4 linked regions of the Homo sapiens genome follow. The protein of the gene in region 3 interacts with the protein of the main gene of each other region in a pairwise test. Each region holds a gene or a part of one and is shown on either strand. Other genes may lie near its edges. The genes, in order: CPNE7, MAP2K5, DUSP21 and POU4F3.

Evidence for each region.
Region 1: the proteins of DUSP21 (region 3) and CPNE7 interact in binary tests that used the Homo sapiens proteins (3 or more experiments, as listed by UniProt).
Region 2: the proteins of DUSP21 (region 3) and MAP2K5 interact in binary tests that used the Homo sapiens proteins (3 or more experiments, as listed by UniProt).
Region 4: the proteins of DUSP21 (region 3) and POU4F3 interact in binary tests that used the Homo sapiens proteins (3 or more experiments, as listed by UniProt).

Annotation. Positions count from the first base shown.
Region 1 is NC_000016.10:89,592,740-89,597,770, forward strand, and holds the end of CPNE7 (copine-7), read left to right. Parts: exon of another isoform or gene 1-1,225; intron 1,226-2,627; coding exon 2,628-2,864; intron 2,865-3,091; coding exon of another isoform or gene 3,092-3,185; intron 3,186-3,744; coding exon 3,745-3,882; coding exon of another isoform or gene 3,883-3,899; 3' UTR 3,900-4,507; downstream 4,508-5,031. UniProt on the Homo sapiens protein: Calcium-dependent phospholipid-binding protein that may play a role in calcium-mediated intracellular processes.
Region 2 is NC_000015.10:67,538,075-67,545,702, forward strand, and holds the start of MAP2K5 (dual specificity mitogen-activated protein kinase kinase 5), read left to right. Parts: upstream 1-4,628; 5' UTR 4,629-5,261; coding exon 5,262-5,396; intron 5,397-7,628. UniProt on the Homo sapiens protein: Acts as a scaffold for the formation of a ternary MAP3K2/MAP3K3-MAP3K5-MAPK7 signaling complex.
Region 3 is NC_000023.11:44,839,071-44,845,403, forward strand, and holds DUSP21 (dual specificity protein phosphatase 21), read left to right. Parts: upstream 1-4,950; 5' UTR 4,951-5,062; coding exon 5,063-5,635; 3' UTR 5,636-5,818; downstream 5,819-6,333. UniProt on the Homo sapiens protein: Protein phosphatase component of the sperm flagellar doublet microtubules. May act as a regulator of sperm motility by mediating dephosphorylation of sperm doublet microtubule proteins.
Region 4 is NC_000005.10:146,334,517-146,341,849, forward strand, and holds POU4F3 (POU domain, class 4, transcription factor 3), read left to right. Parts: upstream 1-4,322; 5' UTR 4,323-4,586; coding exon of another isoform or gene 4,587-4,596; coding exon 4,597-4,716; intron 4,717-5,031; coding exon 5,032-5,928; 3' UTR 5,929-7,212; downstream 7,213-7,333. Other genes in the region: RBM27-POU4F3, read left to right, coding at 4,587-4,716, 5,032-5,042. UniProt on the Homo sapiens protein: Acts as a transcriptional activator. Acts by binding to sequences related to the consensus octamer motif 5'-ATGCAAAT-3' in the regulatory regions of its target genes.

The sequences.
Region 1 (5,031 bases), on a different chromosome or scaffold from region 3:
CCCAAATTTTTTTTATTGTGATAAAATATGCACAGTTTAAAATTTACCATTGTAACCATTTTTTTCTTTTCTTTTTTTTTTTTTTTTTTTGAGATGGAGTTTTACTCTTGTCACCCAGGCTGGAGTGCAGTGACGTGATCTCGGCTCACTGCAAGCTCCGCCTCCCGGGTTCACGCCATTCTCCTGACTCAGCCTCCTGAGTAGCTGGGAGTACAGGCGCCCGCCACCATACCCGGCTAATTTTTATATTTTTGTAGAGATGGGGTTTCACTGTCTTGGCCAGGCTGGTCTCAAACTCCTGACCTCAAGTGATCTGCCTGCCTCAGCCTCCCAAAGTGCTGGGATGGGATTACAGGTGTGAGCCGCCGCACCTGGCCTGTAACCATTTTATTGTATCCAGTTCAGAGGCACGAGGTACATTCATGATGATCAAACATCACCCGTCTACTTACATCTTCAAGCCAAATGGGAACCCTATATCTGTTTGCATCTATTTTTAATTTATACAGATAGTATCGTGATAAAGACTTTGATGCTTTTTAAAAAACTTGGCACTGCACACACACATTTGTGAACCGTCCGAGAGCACGTTGCAACATCACGGTTTTACCTCTTAATATTTTTTTTTTTTTGAGATGGAGTCTCGCTCTTCACCCAGGCTGGAGTGCAGTGGCGCGATCTTGGTTCACTGCAAGCTCCGCCTCCCGGGTTCACGCCATTCTCCTGCCTCAGCCTCCCAAATAGCTGGGACTACAGGCGCCCGCCACCACGCCCGGCTAATTTTTTGTATTTTTAGTAGAGACGGGGTTTCACTGTGTTAGCCAGGATGGTCTCGATCTCCTGACCTCGTGATCCGCCCACCTCGGCCTCCCAAAGTGCTGGGATTACAGGCGTGAGCCACCGCGCCCGGCCTACCTCTTACTATTTCAGTGTATATTTCCTAAGATCAAAGATATTCTCTTGTATAACCATAGCACAAATACAGATTTCAGGAAATTGAATTTAGATACAATCCTTTTATCTAATACATAGACTATATTCCAATTTCATTCATTGGCACAATCATAACTTTCAAAGCAGTATTGTTCCTGGCCCAGGAGCCAGTCCGGAGTCGAGGATTGCGTTCAGCTGTTATGTTCCTGTGTGGCTGGGAAGCGGGTCTCAGACGGTTTCATCTGTAAATGTCAGTATCAGCGTCTAATAAAGATAAGCCTCTTTTTAAGCAGCCACGACACCTGATCACACCTAACCACCACTCCTGGCATTGCACATCCGTCTGGTGTTTGTGTTTCCTGTTGTCTTACCCGTGACATGGTTTTCTGTGGTTAGAATTGGGTTGAAACGAGGACTCAGACATGATCAGCTGAGCCCTCGGTCCCTCTCCTGGACACGAAGCTCCCGCCCTAGTGGGGCCCCACGGTGGGTTTTGGTGCCTGGTGCTCGCACAGTTGGCAGAGGGGGGTGGGGGCCTCATCTGGGGTTGGGAGGGGGTGGGGGGCTTTCTGAGGCTGGGCTGTTTATCTGGAGGCCGAGAGCCAGGCTGGGCACAGCCGTGGGTGCTTGTAGGCCTGGACCAGAGACTGCCTTGCAAACAGGTAATTCTTCCCACAGGTGTGGGGCTCAGAGAGGGGGAGATGGGGAGGGCACAAAAAGAGAGCCTCTTGGAGAAGGCGACTCTGAGTGGGGTCCTGGGGCCCCTGTTCGTTTCCAGGACACATCTGCCCTCAGTGGGACGGGCTCAGTCAAGGCCAGCCCAGGGGAGGCTGCTGTGGGCTCCCGCTCTGCTGCTCAGGCGAGCCCTGCTTCTCTTTATGTTTCCCGTTGTCCACAGTTTGGGCAAGATTATTGAGTGGGGTTTTTTTTAAACAATGGAAGTTGATTTTATTTGAAGTTCCATTCTGCCTTTTTTTTTTTTTTTTTTTTTTTTTTTTTGGAGACAGTCTCACTCTATCGCCAGGCTGAAGTGCAATGGCGCGATCTCAGCTCACTGCACCCTCTGCCTCCCAAGTTCAAGCGATTCTCATGCCTCAGCCTCCCGAATAGCTGGGATTACAGGCGCCCACCACCACGCCCAGCTAGTTTTTGTATTTTTAGTAGAGATGGGGTTTCACCATTTTGGCCAGGCTGGTCTCGAACTCCTGACCTCAGGTGATCCGCCCGCCTCGGCCTCCCAAAGTGCTGAGATTACAGGCGTGAACCACCGCGTCCGGCCAACACTCAGTCTTGTGGCAGCACAGCGGGCACCCTGGAGAGACTGGAGCAGGGTGTGTGGGCTGCAGGTCTGGCTCCTGGGATCGCAGATTTCTCCTCTGGCCTCAGACCTCCCATCCAGGCACTGTGAGCTCATCAGTAAAATGTAGACTTCGTAGCACCCCCTCCACAGCCCTCCGTGAGACTCGTGGAGATTTCCTGAGCTGGGCACAGGAGGCCCAGAGTGCCCGCCACGGAGGGGGCTCCTGACCCACTGTTGTTCGTGATGTTTGTGATGTAGGCATCACACTCTGAAGGCGGTTCTAGGAAGCTCTGACGCACGGAGGCACTCTGGGCTGTCTGGGGGCCCGTGGGTTGCAGGGCGCATGTGGGCCATGGCAGGTGTGGTGTTGCTGATGCCTTTCCTGTGCCCCCAGCAATACTACATCCTGCTGATCCTGACGGACGGCGTGGTGACCGACATGGCCGACACACGGGAGGCCATTGTGCGTGCCTCACGCCTGCCCATGTCCATCATCATCGTGGGCGTGGGCAACGCCGACTTCACCGACATGCAGGTCCTGGACGGCGACGACGGCGTCCTGCGCTCCCCACGGGGTGAGCCCGCGCTCCGGGACATCGTACAGTTCGTGCCCTTCCGGGAGCTCAAGAACGTGAGTGTCCTGGAGGGGCTCCGTCAAGGCCGGCTTGGGGGTCCCTGTTCATGTCACTGCCCAAGACCTTCCCAGGCCAGGCTCACGCCAGTGGATGTGGCAGGTCCCTTCTTGTGTCTGGGGGATCCTGGGCTGTTCCCCCCAGTCAAGAGCAGTATCTGAAGCCAGGACTTTGAGCACCTGAAACACCCTCCACCGTTTTGAAACTTGTCGAATCTACACAAAAGCAGAGAACAGCACAAGGGGCTCCTGGGATCCACCACGCGGCTTCCCCCGTTGCTGCCAACCTCTGCGACCCGGCGAGACACGCACAGCACACACGTGAGGTTCTACCCGCCGAGACACACACAGCACACACGTGAGGTTCTACCCGGTGAGACGCACAGCACACACGTGAGGTTCTACCAGGCAAGACACACATGTCACACATGAGGCCCTACAGCAAGACGTGCATGCCACATAGATGTGAAGTTCTACACAGCAAGACACCACAGACATGCATGAAGACACGGACACGTGACATTCTACGCAGTGAAACATGCATATTACAGACACATGAAGCTCTGCAGTGAGTCACATCACACAGACACGCTCAGGCTTTGCCGGGGAAGTGTGGGTGGGGCCTGGACCATGGAGGTGGCCTCGCCTCCCGTGTCAGCACTTTTCATCTCCGTGCTTGGGGGGCTGGAAAGACCCACGTGCAGCCTCATGTGGCCGACATCCTCAGCAAGTCTTGCCCGGCACCCAGGTGAGCCTCTGGTGGGGGTGGGTAGTCACCACTCGGCTCTGGAGGATGAGGCCTGGGCCATAATCCAGTTGCAGGGACGGATGATCTCCATCTCGAAGGTCCCAGAGGTAACTGCGTTGTCCCATCCTCCAGGCATCCCCTGCGGCGCTGGCCAAGTGCGTGCTGGCCGAGGTCCCGAAGCAGGTGGTGGAGTACTACAGCCACAGAGGCCTGCCCCCGAGAAGCCTGGGTGTCCCTGCCGGAGAGGCCAGCCCAGGCTGCACACCGTGAAGATGTGGAGGGCGTAGGGTGGGGGCAGTGAGGAATGGGTCCGTACAGCCTCTGTCTGCAACATGCTTGGGGTCCCTTAAGCTCCCTCCGACCTCCCAGAAGCCTCCAGTCCCCACCAGGCCCCACTCCCAGTCCTCCTGGGATCCTGCTGGCTTGGGCCCGGCTCTGGGGCCCCCAAGGCCGAAGGGTGACAAAATACAGGCCCCCATGCCTGGCCCTGCCTGAGCCAGGTGGGTGGAGGGAGGGAGATCATGAGGGACTTGGAGGGAGCTGGGAGTTCATCCACGGGAGACCCTGCCCCGATGAGAAGGGGCAGGGACTGGGGGCTCTGCTTTGCGTCTAACCTTTGTGGGGGAGGGCCAGCAAGGCAGTCCCCCCACGCCCGAGAAAGCCTGGGGGACCCAGACACCTGTCCCCACAGTCAAAGCCTGGGGACCCAGACATCCTGTCCCCACAGTCAGCCTCCTGTCCCTGCTGGTGCCCCCACACCCACCTACCCTGTGCTTTTTGCCGTCGGGCCTCTGCACCTGGGTCCATGGGGTCTGCGGGGTCTGCGGGGTCTGCCTGGCCTGTGGGTTCTGCCGGTGGGGCTTCAGGAGTAATAAAGTGTCACCCTATCCTTGTAGTTCTCTTGTGCCTTCAGTCCCTTCCCCAACCCCCCAGAGGGCTGGGCCTGGCTTCCAAAGTGCCCACATCTGAGGCAGGGGCTCTCCCAGGCCCAGCACACCAGGATCCTCCCTGGACTGAATGGGATGCGGGATGCACAGGCTGCCAGGGGCAGAGAGCGGGGATCCGCACCATGGCTGCCTCCACCCGCGAAGGAGCTCCACTCGGCTTCCTGGGACTCCCAGGCCTGAAACCCAGTGAGTGAGGACTGTGGACGTGATGCAGGGGTGCCAGGAGCCTCCCACATGGCCTGCACCGCAGGGAGCTGGGCTGGAGGGTGAAGCCTCCATGTGATGTTCGTGGAGCCGGGGCATCTCCCACCTGCTGGGACCTCCTCGCCCTGAGTTTGAGATTTCCCCTGAATGATCTTGCCTGAGAAAAACAAATTGTCCTAACCCTGAATCCAGGCCCACCCATCCCCACATCGGTCCATCCACCCACCCATCCGTCCACCCATCGCCCTGCCCACCCATCCGTCCACCC
Region 2 (7,628 bases), on a different chromosome or scaffold from region 3:
TTTTGTAGGCCAAGAAAAGGATTTTGGCCTTTTTCCTGCACAAGATAAGAAGCTGTTTGGAGAGTTTTAGTCAAACAAGTGACTTGATCTAACTGTGGCAACTGGGTAGATAATACTGTTGGTAGTAGGGGCAAGGGCGAAAACAGAAGATGAAAGAATAGTTTGGACTGGGGTAGTAGCAGTGAAGGTGGTGAGAAAGGCTCAGATTCTGGATTAAGGATTCGATACTGGGATCAGGGTAATAAGAGATGAAAGAAAACCTCTCTGAATTTATAACAGCAAAATGTAATTTTTCTCCTTAAAAAAATAAATCACAACAACAAAATAACCCTATTAAAATGGGCAAAAAAAAAAAAAAAAAAAGCCAGGTGCGGTGGCTTATGCCTGTAATCCCAGCACTTTGGGAGGCCGAGGTGGGCAGATCGCCTGAGGTCAGGAGTTCGAGACCAGCTTGGCCAACATGGTGAAACCCCATCTTTACTAAAAATACAAAAATTAGCTGGGTGTGGTAGTGCACGTCTGTAGTCCCAGCTACTCGAGAGGCTGAGGGAGGAGAATCCCTTGAACCTGGGAGGCGGACGTTGCAGTGAGCTGAGATTGTGCCTCTGTACTCCAGTTTGGGAGATAGAGCAAGACTCTGTCTCAAAAATAAATAAATAAATACACAAAATGGGCAAAAAACTTCAATAGGTATTTCTCCAAAGAAGATATACAAATGAGCAACAAGAATAGGTAAAGATGTTCAACATCACTAATCATTAGAGAAATACAAATTAAAACTACAGTAAGATATCACATTATACCCAACAGGATAGCTACTATAAACAAATATAGAAAATAACCAGTGGTGGTGAAAACATGGAGAAATTGGAACTCTTATGCACTTTTGGTGAGAATGTAAAATGGTACAGCCACTCTGGAAAACAGTATGGTGATTCCTCAAAAAATTAAACATAGAAAATATGATCCAGCAATTCCACTTTTGAGTATACATCCCAAAAAGTCGAAAGGAGAGACAGGAACAGATATTTGTACCCCCATGTTCATATCAGCATTATTCACAATAGCCAAAAGGTGGAAACAACTTAAATGTTCATTGATAGATGAATGGATACACACAATGTGTTATATACACACAACAGAATTTTGTTCAGCTTTGAAAAGGAAGGAAATGGCCAGGGGTGGTGGCTCATGCCTGTAACCCCAGCACTTTGGGAGGCCAAGGTGGGTGGATCACCTGAGGTCAGGAGTTCGAGACCAATCTGGCCAACATGGTGAAACCCTGTCTCTACTAAAAATACAAAAATTAGCCTTGTGTGGTGGTGGGCACCTGTAATCCCAGCTACTTGGGAGGCTGAAGTGGGAGAATTGCTTGAACCCAGGAGGTGGAGCCTAGATCATGCCACTACACTCCAGTGTTGATGACACAGCAAGAGTACATCTTAAAAAAAAAAAAAAAAGTAAGGAAATGCTGACACATGTTACAACATGATGGACCCTGAAGGCATTATACCAAGTGAAATAAGCCAGTCACAAAAAGGCAGATACTGGATGATTCTATTTATATGAGGTATCTAGAGTAGTCAAATTCATAGAAATAGAAAGTTGATTGGTGGTTGCCAGGGGCTGGAGGGAAGGGGAAGTGGGCAGTTGTTTAATGAATATAGAGTTTCAGTTTTGCAAGATGAAAATCTGGAGATTGGCTGTACAACAGGATGAATGAATGTATGTAACACTACTGATCTGCACACTTCAAAATGAGTACAATGGTAAATTTTATGTGTATTTTATCACAAGGAAAAAAATCACTAGACATCTAACTTTTCAGTAATGTGTCTATTTTCAGTTAAATTTGCCAGTTAACTGAAGCCAATATAGGCCAGTTTTCATATTCCTTAGTGTTATCACACTGGTGCACTTACTGTTTTACCATTTTCCCTTCTGATTTCATTTTTCTGTTAGCATTTACTACTATCTAACATATATTTTACTCATTTGTCTGTGTTCCCCATCAGAATATAACTTCATGAGGGGAGGGATTTTCTATTACACTTAGTGAAAAGTAAATCCCTCAAGTAGGAACACTACAAGTAAGCACAGTTTTTTTTTTACAGTAAGTTTGCTTAATGGCTAGTAAACTATCTCAGCCAGTACCTGAGTGACTATTCTGACTTGTATCATTTAACAAGAAAAAAGGCCTGGCGCGCTGTCTCACGCCTGTATTCCTAGCACTTTGGGAGGCCGAGACGGGTGGATCACTTGAGGTCAGGAGTTCCAGACCAGCCTGGCCAACATGGTGAAACCTCGTCTCTACTAAAAGTACAACAATTAGCTGGGCGTGGTGGCACATACCTATAGTCCTAGTTACTTGGGAGGCTGAGGCAGGAGAATCGCTTGAACCTGGGAGGTGGAGGTTGCAATGAGCCGAGACTGCGCCAGTGCACTACAGTCTGGGTGACAGAGTAAGACTCCGTCTCAAAATAAATAAATAAAATAAAATAAAATGAAAAAAAGTACTAAATGCAAACTTCTTAAGATCACATGCAACTTCGATGTTAAATACTAAATATTCCTTAAATTTAGACAGTATTCAATTTGGTAAAGATCAGAAAGTTATATTTTGTCATTTATGATATCAAGTGGAATGTATTATCAGTGATTATGATGCTTCTCGCAATGAGAGTTATAACTTTCTGGAAAAATCCTTGCTCAAATCATCAAAGTTAAGATTTCTTACTACATAAAGGCTATGAAGAGCTGACGTGTAATTATATTGGCTCTGCAAATATTGGAACAGAAATATGAGTTTGCCATTAGTGTAAGAAAAGCTTCAGAATATGTATGCAAATTTGGCAAATTGAGTTGGTTTTCCCCACGGTACTTCGAATAAAAGAGACATTTTAACAAATCACAGGTTCATAGAAAATCTCTAGTTTCGTGGTCTATTTTCTAAAATAATAGGAAATGAACTTTTAATAAAAGTACATGAGGACTTTTGATGAACGGTTTATTTTTCACAGAAGTGAAGTGCAGGTGAAAAGGGGAAATTCCTAGAATATCTGAAGGATCTGACTAAATGAATTTCTACCTAAGCTATTGATTTACAGTAACTTAAAATGTGATAATTTATCTCCTACAATGGCCTTTCAAATTAAATATAAAAGTAACTCAGAGTAAAGTATGCAGAAAAAATTTTGGTATTGTAACTGAAAATGACCAACATTAATTTTTTTCTCTCACATTAATCAAGCACCTTACTGTTAGAAGGGAAACTGACAAGCCTCCTCAACCGAGTTTATACAAAATTCAACCCCAGAAAGTAAAGCCAATTCGTGCACCTTCATAAGAAAGAAATAAAGGACGAACCTACACATTACAATTTGTAAAGAAACTTCTGTAGAGGCACCATCGTTCTACAACCTTATGCACTTTAAAATCTGAGGTAACAAGGCATTTGAAGATAACCAAGGTTGGCCGGGCGCGGTGGCTCACACCTGTAATCCCCCCAGCACTTTGGGAGGCTGAGGTGGGCGGATCACGAGGTCAGGAGTTTGAGACCAGCCTGGCCAACATAGTGAAACCCAGTCTCTACTGAAAATACAAAAATGAGCGGGCACGGATGGCGCACGCCTGTAGTCCCAGTTACTCGGCAGGGGTTGGGGGCTGGTGGGGGTGGTAGTGCTGAGGCAGGAGAATCGCTTGAATCCGGGAGGCTGAGGTTGTGGTGAGTAGAGGTCGCGCCGTTGCACTCCAGCCTGGGCGACGGAGCGAGACTCCGTCTCAAAAAAAAAAAAAAAAAAGATAACCAAGGTTTATTGCTACTTCCGTGATATCACCATATCACCAACTGCGTAAGCAGTGCTATTTAGTTGAAAATACATGGACTAGACCGAATATTTCTGCAACAGTTTAATAAGAGACGATGATGCGACTACTGCAGCTGTCCCCAGGCAATTAAACTCTTCGGCGAATTTCTTTACTATTGCTTTTGAACAGGGAACTGTTTGCTATTTTAGGGCACTCGTGCGGTAAAGAACTTCACTGAAAAATGCAAATATGTTTTGCTAATGTGGGAGAAAGATGATGATCCTCTGAACCTGTGACTTGGAAGGGGGGATAAAAAAGAACTATTTCTTGAATTCTTGCCTTGCTCTTGCTGATTCGATGCACACAACCCCACGAACATTCAGATTCATGGCTTGACAAAGTGGGGATAACCGGGAGCTGCAGCCCCGTCTTTGAAGCTTTTGTAAAGACAAACGGTCTGCAATGTTAAGCCTTAAATTGGCTTTTGGCGGACTCCAGCCTTTTACCCTTCGTTTGGTAGATGTTTTCACCTCGCTGTCATTAAGCAGGGTCAGGAAATGGAAGGGCCGTGACCGGGTCGCCGCGGGCGCTCTGTGGGCGATGAGGGTCTCCTGAGCGAGCAAGACCAGTCTCTCCCCGACTCGCCACGCGCCACGCGCCGCGCGCCGCGCGCCGGTTCCTCGGCTTCCCACGCCGGGGGCGCATCCTCCCGGGAGCTGCTGCCCTTTTCCAACATGGCGCCGCGGGAGGCGGGTCCCGCTCGTCGGCTCCCGGGGTTCCGGCGCCGCGCGTTTTGGTTCCGGAGTAACAGTGTCGCCGCCGCCTTCCTCCTCCTCCTCTCGCCGCTACCGCCGTCGCCGCCGCCGCAGCCGCCGCCAGTCCGCGCGGCCTCGGGTGGCCGGAGCTCAGCCTGCGCGCGCCGCGCCCTGTGTCTCCGGGTGGGGCAGAAGACTCGCCCCTTGAACCTCCCGCGGGGACTCTCCGTGGTGTGGCGGCCCTGGGGCTCTTTCTTAATAGCCCCGGACTGAGTCCCCTCCAGTCGAGGACCCTCTCCTAGTCCACTGACGAGCGGTGGACACCTGCCGCTGTATCTCCCCCAAACCGAGTCCTTGCCCTGCTGCCTCCTCATACCCACACGGCGGCAGAGACCTTCACCATAGCGTTCGCTCAACTCCAGAACCTTCCGACCTCCGCTAGTTCCTGCGGGCCTTTGCCCGCTTCCCGGTGCACCCTCCCCGGGAGACACCTCAGACCCCCGACAGCCTGGGCAGGCTCGGTGCCTGCGGGTGCGTTCCTGATCACCCCTCCCCTCTTCCCTCCCCCTCATCCTCCATTCCCTTGTTTTCACCCTCTGTCCTCTGCCCGTCACTCCCCTTGTCACCTCTTGGAGCCCCCTCCTAACCAGCGGCCAGTGGGTTTCCCATACCCCAGGATGTGAGCCTCTTTAACCTGTAATGCTGTGGCTAGCCCTTGGCCCCTTTCCTGCCATGGAGAACCAGGTGCTGGTAATTCGCATCAAGATCCCAAATAGTGGCGCGGTGGACTGGACAGTGCACTCCGGGCCGCAGTTACTCTTCAGGGATGTGCTGGTGAGTGGTAATCTCAGTGTCCGGATGCCAGCAAGGGGGACTCAGGGACTTGAGTAGTCAGCACCTTGACCACTGGTGACCTGAGCCAGTGGCAATGGCTACTGCTGGCTTCCTGTGGAGGCAGTTTTATTGCTTCAGGCACAGCATTGATAAATTGCAACCACTAAAACCTGGCAAATGTCTAGGACCCTGGGGAGATAGATCAATCTGACTGAACCCCTGCCCTCAGAGAGCTCATGGCCCGGGCTGGGACACACATATAGACACAACCACGCAAATGCAAACTGCTGAATCTAGAAGAGAGGTTTTTTCCCCCCAAGTGTTTCGGGGAATGTCCTTGGACAGATTCCAGCCTTGTTTTTCTACTGAGTTCTCTGAACTTGGTGACCAGCTGAGAAAGGGAAAAAGGACAACTTTAACTTACCATGTTTGAGCACACTGTTTCATTAATTTATTTTGAGACAGGGCCTCACTCTGTCGCTCAGGCTGCAGTGCTGTGGCACGATCTCGGCTCACTGCAGCCTCTGCCTCCTGGGCTCAAGCGATTCTCCTACCTCAGCCTCCCAAGTAGCTGGCACATGCCATCACACCTGGATAATTTTTGTATCTTGTAGAGACGAGGTATTGCCATGTTGCCCAGGCTGGTCTTGAACTCCTGCGATTTGCTTGCCTCGGCCTTCCCAAAGTGCTGAGATTACAGGTGTGAGTTACTGTGCCCAGCCTGAGCAAACTTAAAGCATCATTGAATGTAAGACATTTTACTTAGAAAAAAATGCTAACCATGACAGTATGACACATCATCCGTTATTAAAATGAGTCCAGTTTCAGAGACGGTAAAAGTAAGGGAAAATGTGCATCTTAGAATTGGTGATATTTTACATTCAGATTTTTCAGAATATATTTCAAATAAAATGATGGAATTTTAGAGCAGAGTGTAACACTGTAGGTGGCCTGTTCAGCTGATGTTTCTTTTTTGCAGATAGTTACTGAGGAGCAGTGAGGTGAAATGGCTTTTCCAAAGCTGTGAGCTCCTGAGTGGGAGAGTCAGTACCAGAACTAAAATTTTGTTTCATTGACTTAGTAGGTTTCTTTCCCTACATGTTGCAGCCGCTTCTAATCTTTCTGGTATTCATTTGAGATAGACAGGGTGCCTTGTGCCCATTCTACATGCAGAATAACTGAGGCATGGAAGACAGAAGCGGACATTCCGAAAAGCACATCACTACCTGCAAGTTAAGAGTGGGCAAGGTGGCAGGATCTTGGGAAGAGGAAGATTTGTGATGTGATTTTTCATTGTCTTGGGTAACTTAATCAAAATTTGATTTCTATAACTTCATTTTGAGTTCTAGATGTTACTGACTGCCCAGGCCATGCAGATTTTTGGGTGCCTTGACCAGGAGCTTTCCATATTGTGCATCAAATGCCATCCTTCTCTTTGTATCCGGAGTTCTCCACACAGTCATGCACATACAGATTTCCCCTCATGATAAGGCCCAGGCTCCTTCATGTGGTCCTCTGGGCACATCTGGATTGGCCCCTGTCTGCCTGGCACCTGTGTCATCTCTCTTCACGGCCCCATAAACTTCTGTGCCTCACTTACATAGGTTGATTTTCATTTCTCCCAGGTGTCCAGGCTGTCTGCACTCTGCTCTTCACCGGTCAATTCCCACCTGTCCTTCCAAGCCAAGTTGTGCTTTTTCTCTGTGTCATTCTTGGTTATGTGCCCCACCTCTGTGTCGTCACAGCTTTGTGTGGGTCCCCCAGCAAAGCACATGTTTGATCATGATTCTTTGTCTCCTCCACTAGATGGTAAACTTCTGGAGGAGATAGATATGTTTGTTTTTGTTTCTTCATAGGACCCCAAAATACTTGTTTAAGAAGGGAGCTTAAAAGAGGATGCATGCAATTATGGTTCTGTGGACAGAACACTAGGTTTAGAGTCAAGGAATTTGGGTTTAATTGCAAGCTGTCCCACTGACTAGGCAAGTCAGTCTACCTCTCTGAGCCTTAGTTTCCTTATTTGTAAAACAGGGAAACTTGTACCTTCCTCAAAGACTTGGAAAGATTATGTGAGATTGTGACTGTGATGAGAAAGATGGGTTTTCTCTTACTCATTTAAAACAATGGAAGGTTGATTATTATGTGATTATATTATTTGGTTATGTGATTATTTCAAGAATAGCCCAGTGTTTAAGACCACAAACTCTGGAGCCAGGTTGTTTAACTTGCAAG
Region 3 (6,333 bases):
GTTGCAGTGAGCTGAGATGCACCACTGCACTCCAGCCTGGGCGGCAAGAGCGAAACTCCGTCTCAAAAATAAATAAATGAATAAAATAAAATAAATAAAATTGAAAAAGCAATAGATGTTGGCGTGGATGTGGTAAAAAGGTAACACTGCTAGGGGAATGTAAATTAGTACAATCTTTACAGAAAGCAGTATGGAGATTCCTTAAAGAACTAAAAGTAGATCTACCATTTGATCCAGTAATCCCACTACTAGGTATCTACCCAAAGGAAAAGAAGTCATTATATCAAAAAGACACCTACACGCATATATTTATTACCGCACAATTCACAAATGCAAAGATACGCAACAAAACTAAGTGCTCATCAACTGATAAGTGGATAAAGAAAATGTGATATATATACACCATGGAATACTACTCAGCTATAAAAAAGAACAAAATAATGTCTTTTGCAGCAACTTGGATGGAACTGGAGAACATTATTCTAAGTGAAGTAACTCAGGAATGGAAAACCAAATATCACATGTTCTCACTTTTTTTTTTTTTTTTTTCTGAGACAGAGTCTCACTCTCTTGCCCAGGGTGGAGTGCAGTGGCACGATCTTGGCTCACTGCAACCTCCGCCTCCTGGGTTCAAGCGATCCTCCCATGTTCAAGCAATCCTCCACCTCAGTCTCCCAAGTAGCTGGGAGTACAAGCGTGCGCCACCATGCCCAGCTAAGTTTTGTATTTTTAGTAGAGACGGGGTTTCGCCATGTTGGCCAAGCTGGTCTCGAACTCCTGACCTCAGGTGATCCACCTGCCTTGGCCTCCCAAAATGCTGGGATTACAGGCGTGAGCCACCATGCCTGGTCGCATGTTCTCATAAGTCGGAGCTAAGCTATGGGTACACAAAGGCATGTAGACTAGTATAATGGACATTGGAGACTCATAATGGGCGAGGATGAGAGTGGGGAGAGATTTAAAAACTACATATTGGGAAGAATGTACACTACTCAGGTGATGGGTGCACTAAAATTTCAGACTTTGCCATTATACAATTCATCCATGTAACCCCAAACCGCTAGTACTCCTAAAGCTATTGAAAGAGAAAAGAAAAAAATTCTCATCACCATTAATGGAACAGACAAATAACATATGCCCCTGGTACGATGTACTGAGAATCACACACTCTGGTGGTCTTCTTGCAAAAAAAATTTCACCTGAATCTAATCCCGAGGGAACAGTCAAACAAATACATCTTGAAAGATGTTCTGCAAAACTGGCCTGAACTCTTTTTTTTTTTTTTTTTTTTTTTTTTGGAGACGGAGCCTTGCTCAGTCGCACAGGCTGGAGTGCAGTGGTGCAATCTCGGCTCACTGCAAGCTCCGCCTCCTGGGTTCACACCATTCTCCTGCCTCAGCCTCCCGAGTAGCTGGGACTATAAGCGCCCGCCACCACGCCCGGCTAATTTTTTTGTATTTTTAGTAGAGACGGGGTTTCACCGTGTTAGCCAGGATGGTCTCAATCTCCTGACCTTGTGTTCTGCCCACTTCGGCCTCCCAAAGTGCTGGGATTACAGGCGTGAGCCACCGCACCCGGCCAAAACTAGCCTGAACTCTTAAAAATGCCAATGTCCAGCAAGACCGAAACAAAATAAAAGACTCAGCAACAGCTCCAAATTTAAAGATGCTAAAGAAGCATGACGGCTAAATGCAATGTGTGATCCTTGATTCAATCTTGGATCAAAAGAAAAAAACAGCTATAAATAATATTATTAAAAGACTTGGTGAAATTTGAATATGGATTACGTGTTAGATGATAATATGGGGCCAATGTTAAATTTCCTGAGTATGGTCATTGTACTGTGGTTATGGAAGAGCATGTACTTGTTCTTTGGAGATATGTGCTGAAGGGCTAAATTGTTGCTATATCTACAAGAAACTCTCAATGTTTCAGCAAAAAGAAACAAGCAAATAAATAAATATGTGTGTCTGTATATCAAAATAGATAAAGCAAATGTGGTGAAGTGTTAACAATAGAACTATAGGTGAAGGGTAAACAGATGCTCATTGTTCTGTTCTTGCAGCTTTTATGTAGGTTTGATATTTTTCAAAACACAAACTTGGACACTATAAATAATAAGTAATAAAAACAAAAAGACTTTTCCCAGTCACGTTTTCTATTAAGCCTTCCATGACATACACCTACTGCCCCTGGCCCCCAAACACTCACCTAAAACAATGAATCATACCCTCTCTTCTGGACTCTTCCAAGGTTATCTATCTCTCTGACCAAAGTATAAGCTCTTGGAAATCAGGCCCTGTATTGTGATGGATCTACACTGCTAGGACCATACCTGACACAGATTGGATGCTCAGTTGATCCCGTTTTTAAATTAATCAAGCTGAGTCTTGAAGCTCGGATAGAATTCAGGAAGCAGAGAGGAGTCAGGCTTCTCAAGAGAGAGGAATGGCATGAGCAAAGGTAAGGAAACAGGAATGTACATTTTGTATTTACCAAAAGCGTTTGCTTTGTTTGGTCAGAACTGAGGGTTTATATAGGTGAAAATGCCTAACACACTATAGATTCTTAATAAAAATCTGATGAATAAATGAATGAATGAGATTTGAAAGGCAGGCTTAGATTAGAAAGGGCTTTGACTACTGAATTGAGAAATTTGAACATTAACTAGTTCTTAACATCCAGGGTGTTTTCCCAGCGGTGGAAAGAGAGTGTGTTATTGGGCAAGTCCATTGCACATTTTCTTCACTAAATAACAAGGAAAATTGCCTCCATCAGTGTGTTAAAAAAAAAAAAAAAAAAAAGGAAAAGTAGAGACAAGTGGGATCTGAAAGTGACCTGCTTCCAAACTCAAGGGGAGAAAACGTTATCTATCCAGGAAAAGCTCCATAGCGGAATTTTAAAACATCCAACATCCCTCAGACTAACAGGTGTCACAGAATATGAAGAATAAATAAATGAATCTATTTAACACGGGTCATGCTTGTCTTTGAAAATAGTGTCTGAGGCCGGGCGCGGTGGCTCATGCCTGTTATCCCTGCACTTTGGGAGGCCGAGGTGGGTGGGTCACCTGAGGTCGAGAGTTTGAGACCAGCCTGGCCAACATGGTGAAACCTCGTCTCTACTAAAAATACAAAAAATTAGCTGGGCATGGTGGCGCGAGCCTGTAATCCCAGCTACTCATGAGACTGAGGCAGGAGAATGGCTTGAACCTGGGAGGCGGAGGTTGTGGTGAACCAAGATCGCGCCACTGCACTCCAGCCTGGGCAACAAGAGCAAAACTCCGTCTCAAAAAAAATAAAAATAAAAAAAAGAAAAGAAAATAGTGTCTGAAATTATTTTGTTAATTGTACTTAGTTTTAAAGTTTAAGAAGTGTATACTTATGAAATAAGTAGACTCCAATACTAGTTTAGGGCCTCCACATTACTACATAGATTACAAAGCTTCTCCGTTAGCCCAGCTGAGCTGCCCCCAACAAACAGTTTTCATATTTATTTAGTATTCGTGTTCTATTTTCTTCCAGATAGCTTTGTGGGGACTGACAATTTAAGTAATGCAAAATAATTTGATTATGACAACTGAGAAAAGAAACGTGTGTTGTGTTTTGAGGTTATCATTTCCTTGACCATCATAAGCAGCCTGGTATCTATTTCATCTTTGTTCGTAATCACAGCACACCTTTGAACACATACCAAAATGATGATGGAATGAGAGCAAAGTATGTGAGTCAATTGGCTACTCTGTGAAACAATTTGTTAGTTTTAGGCTATAGTTCTTTTCAATTTTCAGCCAAATTCTATAAAAATCTTAGCTGGAAGGAAATGCAAATGTCAGGTTACATTTTAGAAATTAATTTTTGGGCTGAGTGCTGTGGCTCGTGCATGTAATCCCAGCACTTTGGGAGGCCGAGGCCGGTGGATCACCTGAGGTCAGGAGTTTGAGACCAGCCTGGCCAACATGGTGAAATCCTGTCTCTACTAAAAATACAAGAATTCGCCAGGTGTGGTGGTGCGTTCCTGTAATCCCAGCTACTCGGTAGGCTAAGGCACAAGAATCACTTGAACCCAGGAAGCAGAGGCCTGGGACTCTCCAGCCTGGGTGACAGAGCAAAACTGTCTCAATTTTTGGCCCAATTACCATGTAGCATTAACTTGTTTCAGAATGTTTAATATTACTGGGAAGACAGCATCGGTAGTGGTCAAAGTGATTTGTAGTTCACAAAGCATGTAGGCATTTTTTTTTGAAGAAAGTAAACAAAATAATTTGAACTGTTGTTTCAGGTAATAAAATAGACTCATGCGGTAAGTCATTTGAGCTGTATGTACAAATGGACTATGACACAGCTAAATTAGTCACAACTGTCCACCACAGGCCAACTTCAAGATAAAGGGCTATATATCAGTTAGCAATGCTCTCTTACAACCAGCCCTGATGTGTTTGTAAGCAGGAAAATAATTTTATGGTTACAATCAACAAAGAAGTATCAGGCCAGTCCACCAAGCCCAGCCAAATCCCATATCTCGCTCCAGTTTTATAGAGATTAGCATATCACATGAGCCAAATGCTGTTCCCCAACTTAGAATGTGATATTGCTATTTTGCAGGGAAAGTGTAAGCCCTGTTCTGCAACACTGATGAAATAGAAGTATTCATAGATCTTGTTTAACGTGGTCCAATAATTGAAACATAAAATAGATATCTTGTAACAGAACATTTTTAAAAGTCAAGAAAGATAAGAATTAGGCCTTGGAAAATAAATGACTATGAAGAAAGATAAAAAGAAAAGAGACTGGGGTGTCTCTGAAGACCCTGCTTAGAGGCCCTGTCCTCCTTGCGGCAAGCGGCCATTGCCATGGAAACCGGAGCCGCAGGGCTATCTGTCCGGGATTGTGACGCCCAGATGGGAGTGGTGAGAGGAGACAGAAAGAGGGTGGTGGCCGATAGCTGGTCCTCTTTCTCCAACACCTAGCCTGAGACTTGGCGGCGCGGCTGCTATCCTGAACTAGCTTGGTAAGTGTTGTGTCCCGAACCAGCGTAGAGAGACCTCGGACCAGCCGCCTTGATGACAGCATCCGCGTCCTCCTTTTCATCATCTCAGGGTGTCCAGCAGCCCTCCATCTACAGCTTCTCCCAAATAACCAGAAGCTTGTTTCTCAGCAATGGTGTGGCCGCCAACGACAAACTCCTTCTGTCCAGCAATCGCATCACCGCCATTGTCAATGCCTCGGTGGAAGTGGTCAACGTATTCTTCGAGGGCATTCAGTACATAAAGGTGCCTGTTACCGATGCTCGTGACTCGCGTCTCTACGACTTTTTTGACCCCATTGCTGATCTTATCCACACCATCGATATGAGGCAGGGCCGTACGCTGCTGCACTGCATGGCTGGAGTGAGCCGTTCCGCCTCACTGTGCCTTGCGTACCTCATGAAATACCACTCCATGTCGCTGCTGGACGCCCATACATGGACCAAGTCGCGCCGCCCCATCATCCGGCCCAACAACGGCTTTTGGGAACAGCTCATCAATTACGAATTCAAGCTGTTTAATAACAACACCGTGCGCATGATCAACTCGCCGGTAGGTAACATCCCTGACATCTATGAGAAGGACCTACGTATGATGATATCAATGTAAGCCATCCCGGCCAGCCCCTGACATCTGCCATCGATCTTGCACCAAGACTGAACTTGAACACTGACATTTTGTTAGTAAAGAAAACCGGATGGTGCCTTGTTAAAGGGCAAGAAAAAAGGGAGGGGGTTGGAGTTTTGAACGTAGTAAGCCTTACCTTAATAGAATTAAATTCATGAAACATAAGATAGTGAAAATATTTTTTATATTGTGAGGTCAAGCTATTGGGGCCTGGCTGGAACCAGGGTGGGGCAAGTAATGCTCAGCTCACATAGACCTGCCAGCAGCACCCAATACATGTGGCAGACCTGGAATCCTGAGCCCTGCCAGAGGCTGACTAACCCAGGAGTGAATCCCCTAGAATCTCACCCGGTTCTTTCCAACCCAAAGTCAAAGCCTTAGACATCTTGGCATCCCTTGCACTTCTCCCAGTAAGTGCCAACCTAGTGGATAAGTGGCTTTCATTCAAGCTGTGCTCCAGGAGCTCTGGAGGAGTCTCAGGCTACCCTTGCCCACCTTCAATCACAGTGGCCCATCTCTGGTTTTCTAGATCGGATTTATACATTAGTTAAAAAAAAAAAAACTAGTTTTTTAAAAGACCATTCCACTCCATAAAGTTTAAAAATATTGTATTTTTTTGACTGCTGTACTTGATGGCAAGTTCTCAAGGTGTCTTTGGTGATCTCCCACCGGCCTTTGTG
Region 4 (7,333 bases), on a different chromosome or scaffold from region 3:
TGCTCACCCTACTCCCTCGGACCCTGGGCTTGGGAGATGGGATAACTAGTGCCAGCCCAGGATGTTAGTTAGGACTAACCTGAGCTCCAGAATCAGATAAACCAAGGCTCCCTTCCCCATGCTACTACTGCCTAACTGTGTGGCCTTGGGCAACTTACTTAGTCTTTCTATGCCTCCTTTTTTTCATCTGTAAAATGGGGATAATGATATCAACCTCACAGGCTTGATTTGGAGACTCAGTGTACAACACTTCCAAAGCATCTAGCTCAGAGCCTTGTACATAGGAACCACTCCATAAATGGCCCTTCTTGTCACCATCATCATGGACACCCCCCTGGCCAGAGTTCATTAATTCAACATGAATTACATCAAGCTCTTAATGTTGCCTGGCCTGTAGACATGGGCACTGGAAACACAGACAGTTCTTCAAGGAGCAGAGATCATAAAACACCACGTTCTTACTAAGAGATAATAAGGGAAGATGCAAAAGACATTGGAAGCTCAAAGAAGGAAAACTCTCTTTGAGTCTCCATGAAGCTTACATAATTAGGGCAGGATTTTAAAATAATAATAATAATAATAATAATAATAATAATAATCCAAGTGACAAGGGTATAGACTAAGTTTTTCAAGTTCAGAGTCCCAGATCCTCTGCATCCAAAATCATGGATGTCTATTAAAAAGCACGTTAGTTTTTGAGGTCAGCATCTCTGGGTGTGGGCCTGTGGTGCTGTATTTTAAGAGGTTGCAGATGATTCCTACACATACTAAAATTGAGAACCGCTGGCACACAGGAAAATGCATCTGCCCCCAGGCCCCTACCCCCTTTGCATCTCTACAAGGCTAGTCCTTCTGGAGGATATGGTGCTTTGTGCCCTGACTTCACCTTACATGTGGCAAATCTATGTCCCTACTAGACTCTGAGCTCCTGAAGCAGTGTCTTCTGTATCTTCAAGGCCTTCCACAAGACTCTGCTGTTAGTAGGTATTTGGAAATGCTTATCGAATGGGGAAAATTCTTCCTTCAATGCCACTTGCATAAATGCCCACATAGTCCTTACATGGACCTTCACATATTTTGTTTGGCCCATAAATGGTATGAGTGTGTGTGTGTGTGTGTGTGTGTGTGTGTGTGTGTGTGATTGTAATTTAATGCCATGGTGGTGGGGGGGGGGGTGGGTAAGTGCTCTCTAGTTTACCACAGTTTCAATCTTTCCTTTTATCCACCCAGATAAAGTTGCTCAATTTTATTTTACTAGTTTTGCACCTTATAGAATTTAAGTTTACAAATTCTGGAAAGCATAGAGGCTGTTACAAATTGCCGTCTAAGGCTGTCCTTCCAATTGCTTTTTCTATGGTCTTTTCCCTCTTTTCTTCTCCAGTCTCCAGTCTGTTATCTCCAAGGCCTTCTCAAAAAGACTGGTCCTTAAGGATGGGTGTTGTCTTACCGCTGGCTGCCTAGAACTGCCAGTAGACCTTCTTAGAGGGGAAGATGGGAAAAACCCTAAAACACATGGGACCAGACACAGGTGTGTTTCTTGATGTGTGATCCTAATGCCTGGGGATGCTGGAGTAGGGGCTGGTAAGGTGAAGGTCAACATTGGAGGCATGTGAGGACCAGTTAGTTTTGCTCTGTTTCTGACTCATGCCTGACCTCTATGCTGGCCAGTATCTCCCAGACCCCTGAGAGGACAGAGCAGAAAAAGAGAATGGATATGAATCCTTTCTCTCCCAGTTTCTAGGGGTTCAGCTTCACAGACAACTAGGGTATTATGGAATGATTATGGGTCTCAGGGCATCATGGGACCAGGCAAAATACAGACCAGTGTATCCCTGTGTTTCATTCCCCTTTTCCCTTTGGGCTTCCAGCATTGGGAAGAAAACAAAGACTGGTCTTAAATCCTAGTGAGTGATAAAATACTGCATTCAGCTCTGGGGAGTTGAGTGTCTCTGGAGATAAATTCCTGACATGCTCAAAGTATGTTTCATTCAAATTAACCAGAATGATAGTCTTGTTAAAGCTGGAAGTCTTGTTAAAGCTTAGCAATCATCTTATACAGCCCACTCCTTGTAGGTAAACTGAGGTCCAGTCAGGGTCACCCATACTCCGTGTCAGAATGCAGCCCCAAATCCAGCCCTCCTGCAGCCCATAGTTCTGATGTGTATTCTGCACTTCTAGAATCCTGCCACCCTTATGCTCTGTGTCTTGTTCATGAATCTACCTCCCTTCTACTGCTTGGCAAGTTTAGAGTTAACTTTCTGAAGTGAATATTAGACTGGTGACTCCTTGAGTGCCAGGATGGATTCTGATTCACATCTGTGTCCCAGCCTTTGGCATGGGGTCTGGCACAATGCAGATGTTGGGTGAATGGAGAGCAAGGATCCACAGTATGCACGTGCAGACAAACCGGGTTCCAGGAGGATGACTTGGCCCACCCCCACTCTCACATGCTTTCTCTTTAAGTTGAGGAAGAAGAGAGGAACATGTATTCAATGATATCAATGCGCCAGGCACTGTGCCATGTGCTTATCCCAGTGCATTCCTCACAACAATCAATGGGAAATAAATGATCACCCCCATTTTACAGATGGGGACACCGCAGTACAGAGAAGTTGAGAATATCTCGTGGTCTCAGCCAGCAAGAGGCAGAGGCGCATTTTGAATCTGAGGCCAGGGCCTGAGCGCTATGGCACCAGGTTGTGAGGGAGTTTACTGAGCACCAATTTCGTGGCTCAATGCTTTTCTTCTTACCCTAACTCTGAACGTCTTCACCAGAATCCAAGGAGGCAGACAGTAGTGCAATTCCATTTAAGAGCCGCCGAAACCGAGGCTCAGAGGGCTTTAGCGAAAGGGTTGCGCTTGGCTCTAGGCACCTGGGCTGAGTCTTTTTCCCACCATCGCAGGGCGGGAACCAGCGGAGGGGGCTGGCTCGGATGGGGAGAAAAGCAACTGGAGGGCGCCGAGGGGAAGAGGGAGCCCGGATCTGTCAGGGCGTCCTCTTGGACTAAGGGATGTTCCCCTAAACCACACCACCCCACCTCGTTCAGATTCTGGGAAACCCGGCACGCACATACCCTGCACAATAACAGGCAGGGTGAGGTCTCTAAGCCCCGAAGATCGCTCTCTCAGCGGAGGCAGTGGCCCTGACGAGGGGGTACAGCTGCACGCGCGGGGTTTCTCTCCGAACCGGAGTGCAGCGTAGTCGAGGTCCAGGATTCCCCATCCATTATTCACGATGTTTACTAGAGCGGGGCAAGGGAGAGGAAAGAAGAGGGAAGTAGAGAGAAAAAGAGGCTAGGGGAGGTGGAGGCGGGCAGTGCTAACCTCGAGAGCCCTCAAGTTCCGAAACTTTGAGAAGGAAGACCAAGAGGCTAAGGCGCCTGGGAAGCAGCAGGCCGTCAGTAAATATTTGTAAGATGGATGGATAACTGGGTGAGTGAGTGAATGGGCTAATCATTAGCCCCTCTGATCCTTGTTTTCCTCATCTGTAAAACGGGATAACATCACCTACTCCATACGGTGGGTATGAGAATCCCATGGGCAAACTCTAAATTGTCTAGCACATATTAGGAACTCTTAAACGGTAGCTGTTGTCACGAGGAATGGGCTTGCAAGCTCTGGCTGCCCAGCAGAAATGCACTGAAGGACTCCCAGGCCTGGAGGGCCATCCTGAACAGTCGCTATTCTAAAAAAAATACTCCACAAGCTTCCTTAGACGGGAGGGTTGGAGGAAGAGTGGGCCAAGTTACATCCCTCAAATGAAAGAAAGAAAGGCAAGCGTGGGGAGGAAGCCACCCCGGACTGAGAAGGCAGTTACTGCCCCTACCTCTACCCCGGAGCGCGGTTGAGGGAGGTGGGGCAGGGGTCACCTGGGCCTCGTTCTGGCAGCCCCTCACCCTCTCCAGGGCCCGTCTGGGCGCTTGGAGGCGCCTCCTCGCTGCGCCGCGGGACCGGACTCTGGTGGACAGCTTGGGCGTGAGGCCAGGAGCGCCCTGGAAATGGGCAGTTTGGCGGCAGCCGGGCCGACGGAGTGTGTGTGTGTGTGTGTGTGTGTGTGTGTGTGTGTGTGTGTGGTGGAGAGGGGAAGTTGGAGTAGGGTCAACTTCCTGCCCCAGCTCAGCCCAGGGCTACCCTTTTATCCAGGCAGTTCGAGCTGGGACAGGACGGAGAGGTTGGGACTTTTGGGGTGGCATGGGGGAAGGGAAGTCCACGAAGAAGAAAGAATCGGAAAGGTCTGGCGGGTTGGAGCCAGCGGGGCGGGGCGGACTGGGAGAGGCCAGGCCAGGCCCGGGTATAAAGGCTGTGGAGGGGGCGGCCGCCGCGGGCGCAGAAAGGCGCGCCGCTAGCTGCTGTCTCTCCTCACCTCCCGGGCCGCCCCTGCGAGTCCCCGGCGCGTGAGCACGCCTGCGCGCGCCCGGGCCCTTCCTGGCAGGCTGCTTGTAAGATGAGTGAAGAAGCAGGTGGGGGAGAGGGGAGGCAGCGAGCGAGAGGGCGAGGGGAGCGCGGGCGCTGAGCAGCGCTCACTTGGAGAGCGGCAAGCAAGCTAGACAAGCCTGATTCCATGTCACCCGCTGCCACCCTGCCAGGAGCGCGAAGATGATGGCCATGAACTCCAAGCAGCCTTTCGGCATGCACCCGGTGCTGCAAGAACCCAAATTCTCCAGTCTGCACTCTGGCTCCGAGGCCATGCGCCGAGTCTGTCTCCCAGCCCCGCAGGTACGTAGTGGAGCATAATTACCGCTCTAAGGCACATTTTTTGACAGGCACTAGCTTCATGTTTTTTTCATGTCGCCCAGAACAATCGCCGCTGTCTGAACCCCTCTCCTTGTCTCCCCCGCGTTCTCTCCCGGCGCGCTCTCTCTCTCATTCATGTCTCTGATCCACACGTCTGTTCCAGCAGAGCCGCTGCCTCCGTATTAATTTTTATGACCTGGGCTTTGAGGAGAGGCATCTCGGTTGCTTGAAAATGTGTTTTAATCCTGTGTTGACAGTATTCCCTACTGACCGTGCTGTGCGCCTTCTCGCTTGCAGCTGCAGGGTAATATATTTGGAAGCTTTGATGAGAGCCTGCTGGCACGCGCCGAAGCTCTGGCGGCGGTGGATATCGTCTCCCACGGCAAGAACCATCCGTTCAAGCCCGACGCCACCTACCATACCATGAGCAGCGTGCCCTGCACGTCCACTTCGTCCACCGTGCCCATCTCCCACCCAGCTGCGCTCACCTCACACCCTCACCACGCCGTGCACCAGGGCCTCGAAGGCGACCTGCTGGAGCACATCTCGCCCACGCTGAGTGTGAGCGGCCTGGGCGCTCCGGAACACTCGGTGATGCCCGCACAGATCCATCCACACCACCTGGGCGCCATGGGCCACCTGCACCAGGCCATGGGCATGAGTCACCCGCACACCGTGGCCCCTCATAGCGCCATGCCTGCATGCCTCAGCGACGTGGAGTCAGACCCGCGCGAGCTGGAAGCCTTCGCCGAGCGCTTCAAGCAGCGGCGCATCAAGCTGGGGGTGACCCAGGCGGACGTGGGCGCGGCTCTGGCTAATCTCAAGATCCCCGGCGTGGGCTCGCTGAGCCAAAGCACCATCTGCAGGTTCGAGTCTCTCACTCTCTCGCACAACAACATGATCGCTCTCAAGCCGGTGCTCCAGGCCTGGTTGGAGGAGGCCGAGGCCGCCTACCGAGAGAAGAACAGCAAGCCAGAGCTCTTCAACGGCAGCGAACGGAAGCGCAAACGCACGTCCATCGCGGCGCCGGAGAAGCGTTCACTCGAGGCCTATTTCGCTATCCAGCCACGTCCTTCATCTGAGAAGATCGCGGCCATCGCTGAGAAACTGGACCTTAAAAAGAACGTGGTGAGAGTCTGGTTCTGCAACCAGAGACAGAAACAGAAACGAATGAAGTATTCGGCTGTCCACTGATTGCGGCAGGGCGCAGCGTCGGGAGCCGGGAGAGCCTAGTGCTCATCCCTCCCGGGTTCGGGGGATGGTTATCGGGAACTCCAAGGCGTTTCCTAGGCAGGTTAGGCTCTCTCCTCCGAAGCCACAGACTTTCCCCCTTTGTCCCGCCTGGTTGCCTCCGGCCTTCTCTCTCTTTCCTTTCTATTCCCACCAAAAAAATTTTGGCGCTGGGAAAATATTGCAGAAGGGCGGGCCTGAGTGTACTTGTGCTGTCCGTGGTGCTGAAATTTGCCCTCGCGCAGGGGCCGCACGACTTCAGAGCAGGAGCCCCAAAGCAGAGGACAGTCAATTGGCCCAACCGCCCGAAGCTAGGGTGAAAATGCCACTTTGCTAAGCGCGATTAGGCAAAGGGTGAAGGGATAAAAAGGAAGTGATCAATAATAACACAAAGTCTAGGATATCTAAGGGGGACACAAACATGCACTGGAGATTTATTAGAGTATATAAAATACATGTATGTTTCCAAAGGATAGCCTTATACTCCCTTCCTTGCCTAAATTCTATTCACCTTATCCTTTGGTTTGGCGTAAATTCTCATAAGGTAGCATGAAGATTAGGTTCAGGGAAAGTATGCAGGGAGTTGCGGGCTCCAAGTTGCCATTTTTTCGTGGTAAGTAGGGCTCCAAAACAGGTGGGCCCAGTCTGGCGACTGAAAATTCTGGGATCGCTTGGCTGTTTGTAATCAGCTGCCAGCACCAGCTCTGGCCATCTTTCACTACCTACTGGTGTTTGAGGGGTAATTACTGCTTGCTGGAGAGCGGGAGTTTGTAGTATTCATAACCGTTGAGGACTCTCTGACCCCAGCTCGCTGCTCTTGCCAGATTGCCAGCTCAGCGTGCAGTCGGCTGCTGGAAAACGACTGTAACTTCTCTGCATTATATGCAAGTCCTTTCAACACGTCTAACCTCCTTGCACTTTTGTTATTACTGTTGTTGTTAACATCGTTCATTACTATTATTTATTTAATTCTGCTTCTTTCCATTCCCTTTATGTGGGTGTCTTTCGGTGGAAGTTCACTTATAGTTTTGTGAGGGAAGAGGAGTGGGACCATGGGCCTGAACCCTTCTCACCCTGCCCCTCTAGCCCAAATTTTATTTTATTTTTTCGTTGTTTCATGTAGTTTGTGTGTTGCTGTGTGACCTTTGGTTTCATTCTCTGAATAGATACAAATAAAATATTAAGTTTTCTTTTCCCTTTACCCCTTGAATTAACTTCTAAAATAAATGCTTTATTTTTCAACCCGAATCAAAGTGGTTTTATTTTTTCTCAGAGGCTAAGGGGTACTAGCTTTGAAAAGGATTTAAAAAGGAGAACCCCAAAGGGTTGGGCTGTCAGTTTCTGCTGCCCAGCCCCCAGCCATCCCTTC